Homo sapiens: one gene and its partner. The protein of the gene in region 1 purifies or fractionates together with the protein of each later gene. This does not show direct contact. Each region holds a gene or a part of one and is shown on either strand. Other genes may lie near its edges.

The links.
Region 2: the proteins of IMPACT (region 1) and CRHBP purify together in Homo sapiens (affinity purification with mass spectrometry; 2 studies listed by BioGRID and IntAct, with this or other methods). This does not show direct contact.

The regions. Positions count from the first base shown.
Region 1 is NC_000018.10:24,435,543-24,444,257, forward strand, and holds part of IMPACT (protein IMPACT), read left to right. Parts: intron 1-2,412; coding exon 2,413-2,498; intron 2,499-4,953; coding exon 4,954-5,076; intron 5,077-7,506; coding exon 7,507-7,610; intron 7,611-8,715. UniProt on the Homo sapiens protein: Translational regulator that ensures constant high levels of translation upon a variety of stress conditions, such as amino acid starvation, UV-C irradiation, proteasome inhibitor treatment and glucose deprivation.
Region 2 is NC_000005.10:76,955,512-76,964,226, forward strand, and holds part of CRHBP (corticotropin-releasing factor-binding protein), read left to right. Parts: intron 1-141; coding exon 142-352; intron 353-3,229; coding exon 3,230-3,378; intron 3,379-7,831; coding exon 7,832-7,949; intron 7,950-8,715. UniProt on the Homo sapiens protein: Binds CRF and inactivates it. May prevent inappropriate pituitary-adrenal stimulation in pregnancy.

The DNA of each region.
Region 1 (8,715 bases):
TGAGGCTTCTTGAATCAAAAATTACACTGGATAAAGTCAAACAGACAAGGAAGACTGTATTCAAGGCCGCTGCAATAGGGGAAGGAGGCCAGAACTAAGTGTGAACTCAACTCCTCTGAAACAAAAGGCAGAAGGGTTTTTAAGGGCCAGGATGAGCTAGTGGAAAAATACTGAAAGATATTATGTGGGGCAGTTAATCGGGTGTGTTGGGCATATTGAGTTATTGTTGAGTTTGCAAATATTTCTCTTTGTGAGTAGGCCATCTGTGTTTACTAATAGGTACCCGTTGAAGTTAGCCTCCTATTCTCCCACAGAGACTGGAAGATAAGGGCAGTGTCTTCTTTGATGCTGTGTTTCAAAGGGATGGTTTCCAGGTCCTTGAGAAAGACATTTCCTGGGTTGTAAAACCAATTAAAGTTTTCTGTAAAAAGATTTACATATATCTCAAAGAGATGGAGAAGGAATTTACAATGACAAGTTTTCTGAAGAAAATGCTCTAAGAAAAGGGAGGTAAGGGCCTAGAGTCAGGAATGGGCCCATATAAAGTTTAGTCGAGCTGAGGTTAAGGCTGTTTCAGTCAGGCTTTTGGAGTCAGTTTTTTAAATAGTGTCATCTCTTTGTGTCTGTTTTCTCATCTGTAAAAAGGGGATAATATTGTAAGCATTAAACTAGCAGCTATCATTTTTTTGTTCTTTAAAAATTTTATTTTTTTATTTTTTTGAGATGAAGTCTTGCTGTGTCGCCCAGGCTGGAGTGCAGTGGTGCAATCATAGCTCACTTCAGCCTCCAAACTTCCAGGTTCAAGTGATCCTCCCACCTCAGCCTCCTAAGTAGCTGAGATTACAGGCACACACCACTGTGCCTGGCTAAGTTTTTTAATTTCTTACAGAAACGGAGTCTCGCTTTGTTGCTCAGGCTGGTCTCAAACTCTTGGTTTTAAGCTATCCTCCTACGGTGCTGAGATTACAGGTGTGAGCTGCCACATCTGGCCTGTTTTTTTTTGTTTTGTTTTTGTTTTTGTTTTGAGAAGGGGTCTTTTTCTGTTGCCCAGGCTGGAGTGCAGTGGCACGATCTCCACTCACTGCAACCTCCACCTCCCAGGTTCAAGCAATCCTCCCACCTCAGCTTCCTGAGTAGCTGGTATTACAGGCACGCACCACCACATCTGGCTAATTTTTGTATTTTTTTTGTAGAGATGGGGTTTTGCCAAGTTGCCCAGGCTGGTCTCGAACTCTTGAGCTCAAGTGATCTGCCCACCCCGGCCCACCAAAGTGTTTTGATTACACCACGCCCGGCTCTGGGATGTTCTTATTTCAAAAATCTTCTCATCCAGCTTATAATATTGAAAATTAGGTGACAGAAACTCAGATCAAGTGATTAGTTTAACTTCACACAGCTTAGTGCATTTTAGTGAATAGCTTTACTGTTATATCAACCAATACAAGTATTTAGTTTTAGTACTAGGAATTGTGGGTGTGATGGGGAGGATTTGAGGGTATAGAATTATTTAAAAACAATGTTGTTTTCTTCTGTCTCTTGTTTCGAAAGTTTTGGTGGGTGCTGATGAGTAGTGATAAAGAGAGATAATGGTTTCAAGGGAAACTTTTAGAGGAAGGAGGTGAGGTGTTGCTATATAGTAGTGTGGTGATATCTTTAAACACATACCATACTTACTACAATTAGTGTCTTTTTCTAAAGAGCAGACACTTGGGCCTTTATTTTATTGCTGCTACCATCATTTAACATAACTATGGACATGACTTTAAAACCTGTGACACATTCTTTTTCTCAGTGATCCTTTGAGATGGATTTAGTTACCTGAGGCAACCAAACATCATTTGGAACCAAAATGAATCAATTTAGGCAATAGAATGTTTTGTCAGAAACAAGATATGAATATAAAATTGTTGAATTGTCTTTTAGGTCTTGTAAATTGACTCCCTGAAGGAGTTTCCCATATGCTTTACATTCTTTCTTGTTGAGATAAGTATACTAAATGATAAGTGTACCAAATAAGGGGTTTGAAATTCTTAAAAAACTTTAAAAAAGCAAGCAGTGATCAGACATCGATACTGAAAGATTGTATCCACTTACAGAAACTAAGTCACATTTATATTTCTTTAATCCATCTAGTTTGGAAATGTTTATTCCCCTCTTTGGTTACAGCTCTTCTGCTTATTTTAAAGTAAGCCATGTTAATTTTGGAGTCAACTGGAATTTTTAACGTTGCTATAACCTGTATTAACTACTCAGACACAAATGTTGATAAACCCCAGGTTTTTATAAATTATTTTAAAAAAGAAATGGTTAGATTGTTTATAATGTCTTGGATTGCAAATGTCTGTATCTTCTTGAATTTGAGAAGATGATTTTTGAAATAACAATTTTTTTTTTCCCCTGAATTTTGTTTAGTCAGAATATCGGTGAAAGTATTCTTTACCTGTGGGTGGAGAAAATAAGAGATGTTCTTATACAAAAATCTCAGATGACAGAACCAGGTAGGATTGAAAAATACTATCAATACTCTTTTAACTTATAATAACTACATTTTTATGTAGATACTCTAGTTGAAATTTAATGTGAAAATCTGTATTCTGGTTTATGGTTTGTATATTATAAAATACAAGTTTCTCTGAAAAGTTTAATTGCTCATGTAATTATAGTTATTTATTTCTATAAGGTTTAGCCTCTTTGATTTTGTATTACAGTATTCCTCCTCATCTGAGATTTGGCTTTCCATGGTTTCAGTTACCTGTGGTCACCTGTTGTCTGAAAATATTAAATGGAAATTTCCAGAAATAATTCATAAGTTTTAAATTGTGTGCCATTCTGAAAATGTTATGAAACCTTGGGCTGTCCCATTCTGTCTAGGGTCTTGTCTAGGATTCTACATTGCTTTCCATTGTTGTTTCTCTTTACTCTCCTTTAGTCTGTAAACAGTTGTTCAGTGTTTCCTTGACTTATAACCTTGACACTTATGAAGACTACTGATAGTTATTTTGTAGAATGCCCCTCAATTTGGGTTTGTCCATTGTTTTCTCATGATTGGAGTGAGATTAGTAGCTGGGAGTGGTGGTGTACTCCCAGCTACTTTTAAAATTTTTTCTACAGACGAGGTCTCCCTATGTTGCCCAGGCTGATCTCAAACTCCTAAGCTCAAGTGATCCTCCTGCCTTGATCTCCCAAAGTGCTTGGATTACAGGTGTGAGTCACTGTGCCTATTGTATCATATGCCTTATTATTGGTGATATTTACCTTGATGTCTCGGTTACGGTGGTGTTCGCCAAATGTCTCCACTGTAAATGCTGTAGTCAGGGTTCTCCAGAGAAACAGAACCAATTGAATATATGTGTGTATATACATGTGTGTATGTACCCACACACAAAGAGAGAGAAATATATTTTAAGAAATTGGCTTATACAGTTGTGGAAGGTGGCAAGTCCAAAATTTGCAGGATAGGCTGGCAGGCTGGGGACCCAGGGAAGAATGAATGTTGCGGTTTGAAAACAAAGATGGTCTGCTGGAAAAATGTCCTCTTCTGGGGAGGTCAGTCTTTTAATGTTAAGGCCATCAGCTGATTGGATGAGGCCCATATGGAAGACAGTCTGCTTTACTCAAATTCAACTGACTTAATTGTTAATCTCATCCAAAAAATACCTTCAGAGAAAAATCTAAAATAGTGTTTAACCAAATATATGGGTATTGAGGCTGGGCACAGTGGCTTGCACCTATAATCCCAGCACTTTGGGAGGCCGAGGTGGGTGGATCACCTAAGGTCAGGAGTTCAGGACCAGCCTGGCCAACATGGTGAAACCCCGTCTCTACTAAAAATACAAGAATTACCCAGCACGTTGGGAGGCCGAGGCGGGCGGATCACGAGGTCAGGAGATCGAAACCATTCTGGCTAACACGATGAAACCCCGTCTGTACTAAAAATACAAAAAATTAGCCGGGCGCGGTGGCGGGTGCCTGTAGTCCCAGCTACTCGGGAGGCTGAGGCAGGAGAATGGCGTGAACCCGGGAGGCGGAGCCTGCAGTGAGCCGAGATCGCGCCACTGCACTCCAGCCTGGGCGACAGAGCGAGACTCCGGCTCAAAAAAAAAAAAAAAAAAAAAAAGAATTAGCCAGGCGTGGTGGTACGCACCTGTAATTGCAGCTACTTGGGAGGCTGAGGCAGGAGAATCACTTGAACCTGGGAGGCGGAGGTTGCAGCGAGCTGAGATGGTGCCACTGCACTCCAGCTTGGGTGACGGAATGAGACTCTGTGTCAAACAAAAGTAAACAAATATATGGGTACTGTGGCCTAGACAAGTTGACATGTAAGATTAACCATTGCAGTCACTGTCTTTCTCTTTGTAGCTTGAGGGAGATACTTTGAAGCTATGCTAATATCCTGTTTCTCCTTAAACTTTCTGCCACTAATTTTAGTATCTATCCATGGAACTTGTCAACAATATTTATTACTGTGGTGTTTGCCTGATGATGATTTTCTATTTTCTTCATTCCTTCCTCATTTAGTAATTGGAATTCTATTATGAGGAAGGGATGTCTCTTCCCATTTATGTATTTATTTATCTGTTTATTATTTATATCAGTATGGACTCATGTATATTATTTCAGTCCATGGGTTAAAATGCCATCCTATCATATTTTTTTGTTGCTCAAATTGTTCTAGCTTTGACCTTTAAGAGCCCCTTCAGGTTAACTCCTGTGTTCTTTTTATAAGCCCCATCTCTTTTTGAGCATTTCCCAGTTTGTGGATCCACATGAGGTTCCAGGTTCATCTTGTAGTTTCCTTGCTCCAACTCAGGAATCAACCAGTTCTCCTACGGGCTGAGTGCTGGTTCCTTTCGTTGAAGAGTGGTATTTAGAACCCAAGACCCAGTGATTTTTTTTTAAAAAGCATCGTTTCTTACCTGCGTCATAAAGTAATTGTGTCTCATATTCACATAGGCCCAGATGTAAAGAAGAAAACTGAAGAGGAAGATGTTGAATGTGAAGATGATCTCATTTTAGCATGTCAGCCGGAAAGTTCGCTTAAAGCATTGGATTTTGATATCAGTGAAACTCGGACAGGTATAATGTTACTAACTAATTTCTTTTGAGGAGAGTGGGTTGGTAGTATTATGTATTGTTCTTTGAGATGATAGAGAAATTTACTAATTTTCTCCAGTTTTAGGAAGGAGTTATTAATTTGCAGATAAGATTAATTTTTTCCTGCCTGTTGGCAATTTTGGTGTTTGCCAAGTCTTATCAGAATGGCAAGGAAAAAATGGAAATTTACTCTTTTCCCCCTACTTTCTAGAGTTTTGATTTAGTGATGGAAGAAATTGAAACTAAGAAAGGCTATTAACGTTTTTAGTTAACATCATGTTTTTATATTTCTGTATTGAAATCCTTAGCTGTTTCCTGATGTTTCAGGATTAAATTTTAGTCTGTGCTCACAAATACAAATATATTAACTGAAAGTGCAGCCCTGGAAATTAAAGCTAGTAAAATGCCTTTAAGAGGTTTTTTTTGAGAGACAAGGTCTCGCTGTGTTGCCCAAGTTGACCTTGAACTCCTGGGCTCAAGTGATCCTTCTACCTCAGCCTCCGAGTAGCTGGGACTACAAGCATGCACCATTGTGCCCAGCTTGAGTTCAGTTTTTGTTTGTTTGTTTGTTTTTTTGAGATAGAGTCTTGCTCTGTTGCCCGGGCTGGAGTGCAGTGGCACGATCTCAGTTCAATGCAACCTTGCCTCCCAAGTTCAGTGATTCTCCTGCCTCAGCCTCCTACGTATCTGGGATTACTGGCACATGCCACCATGCCTGTCTAATTTTTGTATTTTTAGTAGAGATTGGGTTTCGCCATGTTGGCCAGGCTGACCTCAAATGACCTACCCACCTCATCCTCCCAGAGTGCTGGGATTATTATAGGCGTGAGCCACCACGCCCGGCCTAGTTTTCGTTTAAACAAATTTGTTTCGTAATCGAGTAGTATTCAACATAAAAATAGGTTGCTGTGATATTATGTTTCATTTTAATATTTTAAAATTTTGAATGTTATTGTTAGTTTCCCTAAGCCTCTTAGGAAAACATGGTAGACCAGGGGGAATATTCATTCTGTTTGAAGGTGAGGGGTTTCCTGTGTCATTACACAGTAGCTTTTAAAAGGTGCTCTGAGTTTTAAGGCTTTTGAATGGTGTCCAGGACTAGTAGAAGGGAACAAAGAGGAAATGAAAGAGTGGGGAGCATCCAGGGCTCTCATTTATGCTCTAGCCTAAGTAGCTCCCATTTTAATCATTTATTTGTGTGTGGATTTGACATATGATATCTTTTGAAAACAGGATCTACCATGAAAAGAAAAAGGATAAAAATCATACTCATAAATAAATACTATCAATTGGTCAGTAGTTCATATTGACCCTAATACTGTATTTGACTTATTACTATGTTAGTACAGCAGTCAAAATCAATTCAGGAAAAGAACAGTATCAGAGGGAAGGTGTAAAACATCTTACATAAACCTACTTTCTTGTCTTGAATAACTTTTCATCCTAAGTGAGGCAGGTAGTAGTAGCCAGGACGATTAAGTCTCTCAACAGAATTGAGGGTTAATTAGTGATTCTTTTTTTTTTTTTTTTTTTTGGAGATGGAGTCTTGCTCTGTTGCCCAGGCTGGAGTTCAATGGCACAAACTCGGCTCACTGCAACCTCCGCCTCCCAGGTTCAAGCAATTTTCCTGCCTCAGCCTCCCGAGTAGCTGGAATTACAGGCACACGCCACCATGCCCAGCTAATTTTTGTATTTTAGTAGAGACGGGGGTTTCACCATGTTGGCCAGGCTGGTCTCAAACTCCTGAACTCAGGTGATCCACTCCCTCGGCCTCCCAAAGGGTTGGGATTGCAGGCGTGAGCCACCACGCCCAGCCATGATCCTTAAACTTGTTTTAAGAGGTATAATAACTGGAAATCATGATGCTCTTTAAGGAATACCAATTGGATGTATTATTGATGTATTTAATTCCATCATATGAAGTAGAAACAGTTTCATTAGCAGAAGGCATTATATTATAGCTACACAATATAAAGAATATAAATTCATAGTTTTCCCAACTCAGAGGTCTAACAACAGTGAAACTGATAAATAAATTTTATATTAGCAGCTATAAATCTTTGGTTTCAGGACTCCTTTACACTCTTAAAAATTATATATTAGATATTGTACCAACTTACACTACTGACTGCAGCAGTTCAAGATTAGTCCCAACCCACTGCTTCCCCTGGGTAACCTTGGCAGGTGGAAATCATTTATAAATCAAGTATTTTAATCTTATGTACAATATAGTTAGAAACTTTTTACTTAAAATTATAATTTAAATTTAATTTTGGTAGATAGCGATTAATGGTTATTTTAGTTGATTTGCCATGTAATTTACATTTCTTTCCCAGCTGCCCCCCCATTTCATTTTTTTCAGTATTTGAATGTAAGGCTTTTTAAAAAATAAAGTTTCTTTTACATTTCTAGAAGTAGAAGTAGAAGAATTACCTCCGATTGATCATGGCATTCCTATTACAGACCGAAGAAGTACTTTTCAGGCACACTTGGCTCCAGTGGTTTGTCCCAAACAGGTAAAGTTCCTTTGTCTAGCTCACTTTGATGATTACTAAAATAATTCAGGTAAATGATTTTGCAATAATCCCCTTGTTTTTACTTTTATGTTTTATTTTCATATAAGATAAAAATTATTTGTTCATTTTTCTACTCCCAAATTACTGTGAATCACGGAAGATTTGTTTTGTTTCTGTTTGTCTCTGCTTTCTTTCTTTTTTTTTGTGATGGTGTCTCACCATGTTGCCCAGGCTGGTCTCAATCTGGACTCAATCAGCCCTCCTGCCTCCAGCCCTCCCAATCCAAGGTATTGGGATTACAGGCATAAGCCACCTAGCCAGGCCTGTCACTGCTTTCAAAATTGTATCTAAACTCTGATTAGGGGTTAACCCTCTAATGAATCTTTAAATAAGAAATACCCATTGTGTTATTAGAGAAAATTATGATGCTTAATACCTTGTCAAAAAGAATTATTTGTCCTGTCGAATGGGAGTTCTGTGAAACTAAGTCCATTCCTCTGTTATTATTCAACAAAGGGGACAGTGGACAGACTGGCTAAACCAAGTCCTCCCTACCTGACTTACTTTCCTTTGTGCTTCTTGATCTTAGGTGACCATATTTCCACCCAGGGATATAAATGGGAGAGGTTTCAGCCATAAACTATTCCTAGGTCTTTGCCTTTCTCATTCTCCTTTCAGCAGAATCCTTTTCTTCTTCCTTGCTTCTATAATGTAGCTCAGCTTACATTATTGATGTACGAGGCAATTTCAATACTACCTGTAAAGTTACATTTTTAAAAATGTCTCATTTACTGCAGGTTTTAGGCATGAGTCTCTTCCTTTGGTCTTTGCAGCTACCCTACTCTTGAAGCTCTTTAAAGCCCTGGGCTTCAGGGATACAGCTCTTTGTACCAGGCTGTTTCACTCTCTGAAAGAGGAAGTTCTTTTCTGCGTTGACTTGTGGTCAAGATCATAACTTTTGGTGCAGACTTCTGGTCTTTTCTCTCAGGAATCCTATTTTGTCCCTGGCCCTTAGTCACATCTTCTTCCCAGGGTCCTCCTGAGACATTCTAATTCTGAATCTGTTTATTCTGGATCCTCTTTCTGTTTCTGATCACAGTCACTT
Region 2 (8,715 bases), on another chromosome or scaffold:
CGAGCAGGCAGAGTGTGGACTGTCGATTCTCACTTATGACTGAAGGCCCATTGCTGGATGACTTTCCCCCCCTTTTCAACTCATTTCAGACTTCAGGAGTTGATGGAAATGATAGCATCTATGTCTGTATTTTTTTCAAAGGTATTTGATGGTTGGATTCTCAAGGGGGAGAAGTTCCCCAGTTCCCAGGATCATCCTCTCCCCTCAGCTGAGCGGTACATAGATTTCTGTGAGAGTGGTCTTAGCAGGAGGAGCATCAGATCTTCCCAGAATGTGGCCATGATCTTCTTCCGAGTCCATGAACCAGGAAATGGATTCACATTAACCATAAAGACAGACCCCAACCTCTTTCGTAAGTGTTCTCAGTCAAAAGGCAGAACTTCGGATATAGACCCGCTTTTTGAAAGTAGTATCATTGCACAGACTTAAAGAAATTTGAACTGAGGAATGATTTGAATGGAAATTTTTTTGTAATTAGAAATGACCTAAAGGATAGTTTCTATTCTTTATTATGAAAATCAAATCACAGTTTTTAATTTATTTCCCAGGTTAGGTAGTATACTAATTTATGAAGAGTACAATTCTATCTTTTCTCCAAAGTCTTGCTCTGAGCTTCTCAGGTTCTACAATGCATTTAGTGATAAGCTTTAATCTTCCAAGTCATTTCACTAATCCAGGATAAGCTTGAGTGATCAGATATAAAGTTGCAGTCTTAGAGATATTCAGGCACAGGCTTGAAAGTCTCCATGTCTTTCAGCCTGTGCCTGAATGTGGTAGACCGATGTCATGCCCTGACCAGAGGGTTGGATTATAGCACCTCAATGTTACCTTCTGATTCTGAGCCCACCACTCTAATTCAATTCATTTATGATGGACACACACGTAGCTTATGCTACACAACTGAACAGCCCAGGTCTAAAGCATATTATCTTACTAAAAATATTTACTCCGCGGTGGCTCACGCCTGTAATCCCAGCACTTTGGGAGGCCAAGGCAGGCGGATCACGAGGTCAGGAGATCCAGACCGTCCTGGCTAACACAGTGAAACCCCATCTCTACTAAAAATGCAAAAAATTAGCTGGGCGTGGTGGTGGGCGCCTGTAGTCCCAGCTACTTGGGAGAGAATGGCGTGAACCTGGGAGGTGGAGCTTGCAGTGAGCTGAGATCGCGCCACTGCGCTCCAGCCGGGGTGACAAAGGGAGACTCTTGTCTCAAAAAAAAAAAAAAATGAATTTACTCATCTGCTAATTGTTTTTTCCCCATTAAGAGAAAAATCTGTTTAAAAAATTAGAAAAGGAACACATATCACTCATTTTTGCATACAGTAGAATTAATGGTAACACTTCATGCGGCTGAAAGATGGGGCCTTTATCTGCCAAAGAATAATGCACTACTGATCTTTTGATTTCTAGTTCTGAAAAAACAAAAGAATTTTTGAAAAAGCCCCCCAAAAAGGCTGTTCCTGAGGACTGCAACAGAAGAATTCTAGAAGACAAAATAAAGAGTTTCCCCTATATTTTGTTTAGTTAGAAATCAGAAACCTCCTGGGCCAGGCGTGGTGGCTCATGCCTGTAATCCTAGCACTTTGGGAGGCCGAGGAGGAGGATCACTTGAGCCCAGGAGTTTAAGATCAGGCTGGCCCACAAAGTGAGACCCTGTCTGTATTAAAACTTTTAAAAAAGTTTATTAAAAAAAGAAACTTCCTAGAACCATCAAGGAATTTCAGTCCTTTTTGAAAGTAAGTATAATTAAAAATATGAAAAGGAGGCAAGAGGTGTTTCTGATCTGTTCTGATCAATGTTGATTCATCCAGTAATCAGAAAAAAAAGTACAAATTCTGATGCTTCTAGTTTCATATCTAGACTAATTAATGTATTGTAAATTTATTTATTTGAGACGGAGTGTTGCTCTGTCACCCATGCTGGAGTGCAGTGGCACGATCTTGGCTCACTGCAACCTCTGCCTCTCGGGTTCAAGCAATTCTCTGCCTCAGCCTCCCGAGTAGCTGGGATTACAGGCGCCCGTCACCATGCCTGGCTAATTTTTGTGTTTTTAGTAGAGACAGAGTTTCACCATCTTGGCCAGGTTGGTCATGAACTCCTGACCTCGTGATCCACCCGCCTCGGCCTCCCAAAGTGCTGGGATTACAGGCGTGAGCCACCACTCCCGGCCAATGTATTGTAAATTTAGATTTGAGATATAAAACAAAAAATTGTAGAAGTTCTTGGGAGTAAATTAAACATTAAAAATGCACCTTTTAGTTAACTTATCACTTAACATGCAGCAAATATTTATCAGACTTAATACTGCTGTCTTTCATTTTTTTCTCAGCCTATTTTCTCACTATTAGAAAAATACTTAAAATAGGCCTGGCATGGGGGCTCACTCCTGTAATCCTACACTTTGGGAGGCTGAGGCAGGTGAATCCCTTGAGGTCAGGAGGTCGAGACCAGCCTGGCCAACGTGGTGAAACCCTGTCTCTACTAAAAATACAAAAATTAGCCAGATGTTGTGGCACATGTCTGTAGTCCCAGCTACTCAGGAGGCTGAGGCAGGAGAATCACTTGAACCCGGGAGGCAGAGGTTGCAGTGAGCTGAGATGGTGCCACTGCATTCTAGCCAGGGTGACAGAGCAAGATTCCATCTCAGAAAAAAAAAAAGAAAAGAAAAATACTTAAAATAAGCCTGGGGCCATGGTGAAGCTGCCGAGCTGCATCCTAGGCCCCCAGTTTTAAAATAAAAATTAAGTTTTTTTAAAAAAGAAAATAAGTAAGAATGAAAAAGAAAATACTTAAAATTATTTACTTTATTATTTAAAAATAGACAGAGTTTGAGTTTTGGACTCACCATTAAGCCTCGATTTTTCCAGATTCCTAGCTTTAAGCTGGACTCTAGTTAACTCAAGTGTTCCTAGAACTACTACCAGCTAGTATTTGTTTGGGTGCTGTGTTATGTCTTGTGATTGTTATAAACAAGGTAACCCCCTAAGATTAACATTAGAAGCCCCCTCACAGCCCAGGGCCTCCTGACAATATCCACGTGTCACTGATGGTTTTTGTTCCCCAAATCCTTCCTGTCTCCAAATTGCTTTTGTGGTATATATGCTCTCTTCCTGGGCAGAAGGCCCTAGATCATGAACAGGAGCCCTAGAATAAGATACAATAAATGTCTATAAAAACCTAGCAAACCAAGTAAAGGAAACGTGAATTTCTTTTTCTTTTCTACAAAGCTTGCAATGTCATTTCTCAGACTCCAAATGGAAAGTTTACCCTGGTAGTTCCACACCAGCATCGAAACTGCAGCTTCTCCATAATTTATCCTGTGGTGATCAAAATATCTGATCTTACCCTGGGACACGTAAATGGTCTTCAGTTAAAGGTGAGTTGCTTACTTGTTTCCTAACCGTTTGATAAGGCCACAACTTTATCAGAGCAGAAGCAATCATATAGGGAAAACCTGGACACTAGCAAATTGGCGTAGTACGTTGCTCTGATGAACTCTTAAATCTCAAATGTGTTTGCCCTAGCTGCTTTGACTAACCCCCTCTTCTATTTCAGTTATGCGGCAAGTTGCATACTCAGGTGCCCCTTCTGACTACTTGAATACTTTCCCTGTGATGTAAGAAGTGTTTTCAATTGGTAAAGTTGTGGTATATAATTACAATTGAACTCTCTTGTACTTGCCTCTTTTACAAAAATTCTCTCCTAGCAGAACGTAGTGTGAGTCATCTACACAGCTGTTTTTCTGATTATTGGAATTTTCTTTTGACATGAAGGAAGTATCTCATTGACAGAACTGCGTTGTGAAGGAGTGCTAACTGTAGCATAAAATACAAAATTGGATTTTTAGATTGCAAAATACAGTAAAGCTTTGAAAAGTATTTGGCATGACATTTAACTCAATACATTTTGCCTAAAAAATATTAGCCAAGAACCCCTATCAACTTGTTTTTGAATAAACTTCTGTATGGACCTTAAAATTCATGCTGAGTTTGACCGCATTTTCTTGCACTGGTAGCATTTTCCCTCTGAGTCATCCTCATTTCCTTCTACTTTCTCACATGACTAGGTTAAGATAACTCATGTATTTGCTGCTATCAAAGGCAGTCATAATTCCTAATCAGACAGATTTTAGTGAAAACCAAATAAATAGAACTAGGACTGAGAAAAGGAGTATATCCAATTTCCTTTAAGCCCTAAATTCATGGACTAGTGCCTGCTTTTTTTAAGTTGGAACTTAGTGGAAGAATAGTCCTTTGATAAGGACATTTTTGGGTATCTTTGGTACAGTTTTACTGGCTTGATATTATTTGTATGTCATTTTTGATGTAAAATATAGAAGATGAAAGGTGTGAGCACAGACTGGGAGATCTGCACTTTAGTTATTGGGGCTATGGGGGTAATCTTGGTGTTTCCTCCCGAACAATTTAGAGCCTACAGTGTTCTAGGCATCTGTTCCTTCACAAAATATTTTTTGAATGCTTACCATGTGCAAGGCACTATTGTAGATGCTGGAAATTAGCAATAAACAAGACAGGTCCTGCTCACAGGGACCCTGCATTCAAGTGGGATGAGACAGGCAAAATTGCCATGTATTTCAGTTGGTGATAAGTGCTATACAGAAAATGCAGCAGAGTAGTGTGGTAGACAGTGACTGGGAGCATGGGGGTGGATGGAGAGGCGCGGGGCTACTTGTGATAAAGTGGTCAGGAAAGAAACCTTTTGAGAAGTGAGACCTGGGTGATAGATCAGAAGGAACCAGCAGCTGTGAGAACAGGGAGCAGAGGGAACAGTGCAGGGGCTCAGAGGCAGGAATGGGCTTGCTGGATTCCAGACATGGAAAGAAGAGGAGGATTGGCATAAAACAGCTTCAGGGAGATGGGCAGGGCCAGAGTGTGGTGAGCCCTGCAGGCCACATTAGGGAGTTTAAGTGCAGTGGTAAACCACTGAAAGAGTTCAGGGAGGAAAGCAACATGATCTGATGTATGCTGTCTAAAACGTCACTGTGGCTTCCATGCAATGAATGGGCTGTAGGGCCATGCCACCCTTTTTATGGCTCTGGTGAGATGTTTCTTTAGTTATTATTAACATATCTATCAAGATTATTTTCTTAAACCTCCCAGATTTCTATGTATTGGAAGATGAGTTCCACCAAAATAAAACCAAAACCAAAAAACCTTCAATTTTGCACATTGAGTTGGTGTGAGGATCTTACATTTGGTACAAGGAATGTAAGTACTTTTTATTGTTTTTTGTTTTTTGTTTTTTTTTTGAGATGGAGTCTCGCTCTGTCGCCCAGGCTGGAGTGCAGACATGCAGTCTCGGCTCACTGCAACCTCTGCCTCCGAGGTTCAAGCAATTCTCCTGCCTCAGTCTCCTGAGTAGCTGGGATTACAAGCATGAGCCACCACACCTGGCTAATTTTTTTTTGTATTTTTAGTAGAGACAGGGTTTCACCATATTGGCCAGGCTGGTCTCAAACTCCTGACCTTGTGATCTGCCCGCCTCGGCCTCCCAAAGTGCTGGGATTACAAACATGAGCCACTGCTCCTGGCCAAGTACTTTTTTGGTACATTATTGTGGGCTAGGCAAAAGATAGTAGTGGCTTAGAACCTGAACAAAGAAATTTAGGGAATCCCTGTTGAGAAACTGAACTTGAGAGGTCCCTGCATAACTCAGTTTCTGCCATTGTAAGAAAAGCTGAGAGGTTTGCAAAGAAGGGAGAAAAATCATTGAACAGCAAGGAATAAGTGCACTTAACTTTCTTGTTTCTTTGTTTTGTTCCCCTCACTTTAGTTTCTATTTCTTCCTAGCTTCTTTATTTCCTACTTCTCTCTCCTGAGTCTGCCTTTTTGCCTGCAACAGCACCTGCTGAATTTTGGAACCTATAAAACTAAGTGGAAAATTTAGTTGTAAGAGATGTTCCTCCTGGACATCCTCTACTCAAGGGAAAGGCAATTAAAGTTTTTTTCCTTTACTGCTAAATTGCTTATTCCACTCTCAATACAAGAACATGAAGCCCTGTATACAGTGGGGCTAATTAAACCTCTTTCATCATTTGATGCAATTATGTATAAAGCCTCTAAGCATCAAACCCAGTACATAGTAGGTAGGCCCTTTAAAAATATGTATCCCCACCTGCCCCTGCTCATTAGTGAAGCAGTTGCCATTATGTTATTTTCCAATTTGCTGTTTAGTTCCAGTTGTATTCCAATGCTCTTCTGTGTTTTTTTGTTTGTTTTGTTTTGTTTTGTTTTTTCGGAGACAGAGTCTCACTCTGTCGCCCAGGCTGGAGTGCAGTGACGTGATCTTGGCTCACTGCAACCTCTGCCTCCCAGGTTCAAGTGATTCTCCCACCTCAGCTTCCCGAGTAGCTGGGACTACAGGTGTGTGCCACCGCGCTTGGCTAATTTTTGTATTTTTAGTGGAGACGGGGTTTCACCGTGTTGGCCAGGCTGGTCTCGAACTCCTGACCTCAAATGATCCACCTGCCTTGGCCTCCCAAAGTGCTGGAATTACAGGCGTGAGCCACCATGCTGGTCAGTGCCCTTCTAAATGCCTGAATGTGTGTGCTTATGTGTGTGTGTGGGTGTGTGTGTGTATTAAGTTCTCTATTTTAGATTTTGGTTCCTATGTGTTAAGGTCTATCTAGTGAAGTACTGAGCACCTTGTCACATTCTACTAGATCTCTTAATGAGCACACTTCAATGAAAAAGAGGATCACAGGCAAAATTGTGGGGACCAGTACAAATGAAAATGTGGGAGCCCTTATTACAATTTTATGAAAATGCAGCAGAACATTAAACCAAGCATAGAGCCCTTCTAGGCACTGGCTTTTTGTGGCTGCACAGGTGGCATACTTGTGAGACTGCCCTGGGGAGATGGGGGCTCAGAGTACTTTTGGGACTAAGAGTGGTTGCTTTGTTTGTGTTGGAAAGTGAGGCACGGGGATTGCTATGGACAAGACAGTGTGGAAAAAATGAAAAGGCTGGGTGAGGTGGCTCACACCTGTAATCCCAGCATTTTGGGAGTCCGAGGCAGGAGGATCCCTTGAGGTTAGGAGTTCAAGACCGGCCTGGGCAACATATCAAGGACCCATCTCTACAAAATTGAAAAAAAAAAAAAAGGGGGAAGCAGGAAAAGGTGATCATGGTGGACCACACAAAGCTTTAGAATGAATTCTTTTGAGTAGCTTGAAATAAATTTGTTTTAGTTGAAAGGAGAAAGATCATGGTAACTGTAGCTAACTTGGGCCCCAAATCAGGGTTTTATTATTTCTTTAACATACTCATAATTAATCAAAATTCTTATTGTTAGAAATGAGGTGTTCCAATAGCACACAAATTTCCTTTACAAAGAAGAAGAAAAGAGATGAGGTGAAGGAAAAACGGATGTGAAAGCCCTATTTATAAAATGTAGGTATTTGACTTCGCTTAGCTGTGACTGCATGCATTAAGAAATTGGAGTGATTCAGTATGTATGTCCAAATGATTTGAAAAGTAAAGCATTTTTTGGTTGAATTTCCACACATCTTATATGGAGTTTACAGATTTCCATTTTATCATTCCAGTCCTTGAGCTTAAAAAAAATGAAAAAAACATGTACACACATTTCTAAAAAAAATGATTACTCAACTGATTTAGAAAAGCAATTTTTATGATTTTTTCTCTTTTAAATGTCTTTTAATTTCCAGAGTCCCAGATGTTAAATTAAATGGTATTGCCAGGATGTTGAGGGCTGATTGAGTGAATTCATGGACCCGCTGTTGGTCAAATGGTTTGACTTCTGTAATTGGTTTAAATGTGTCTTTCTCTGCTGCTTTATTCCCTTAGAAATCCTCAGCAGGTTGCGAGGGAATAGGAGACTTTGTGGAGCTGCTGGGAGGAACTGGATTGGACCCTTCCAAGATGACGCCTTTAGCTGATCTCTGCTACCCCTTTCATGGCCCGGGTGAGGTATTTCTTTGATTGTTATGTATGTGCCTATCAAGATTAAAAAAAAATAAGCACTCCCCTAATATTTTCTACATTGGAAGGTGAGTTTCGCCAAAAAAGCCTTCAATTTTTCACACTGAGCCAGTATGAGGATTTGAGGCTATATATAACATCAGTATCTTTACCAAAATATCCGACACTGGGAGAGAAACCTTTGAAGCAATAAAGGTTGGCCTTAAGTAAAACTATGAAAAAGACAAAGCTTTTAAAATCTGCATTCTTTCCATTTTCTTGGGGGTCTCTGCTTTCATTTTCTAGAGACTAAAGAGTTTACTAACTGAAACACTTATGGTTCAAATAGTAGATGTATCATCAATTAGTAATAGGATAATAATGAAATAACTGTTTTTTATGTATGTGTATGTATGTGTGTGTGTTACTCATAGTAAATAAACAACAAAGTGATAAGCTTTATTAGAAATTCTTAGAACTGCTAAGTCTATAACTTCTTATGGCTAAACTAGCCTCTCAAAGGCCAGTGTAACACAGAGGTAAATTCTGAAATCTAAAAGCGGTCACCAGTAATAGAAGACTGGTTTATTTGGCACAGCATATGCCAAATAGAACCAGATCTATGTCAGAGACAAGTGAGTATTTTCACTTTTTTATGCTCATGTCAGGTGAGGATGGATGGGACTTCATGACCTCATGACCAGATAACTCAATGAAGTCTCGGGGAGGTGGGGGAGAGGAGTCATAAAACATTCCTGTAAAGGTCACTC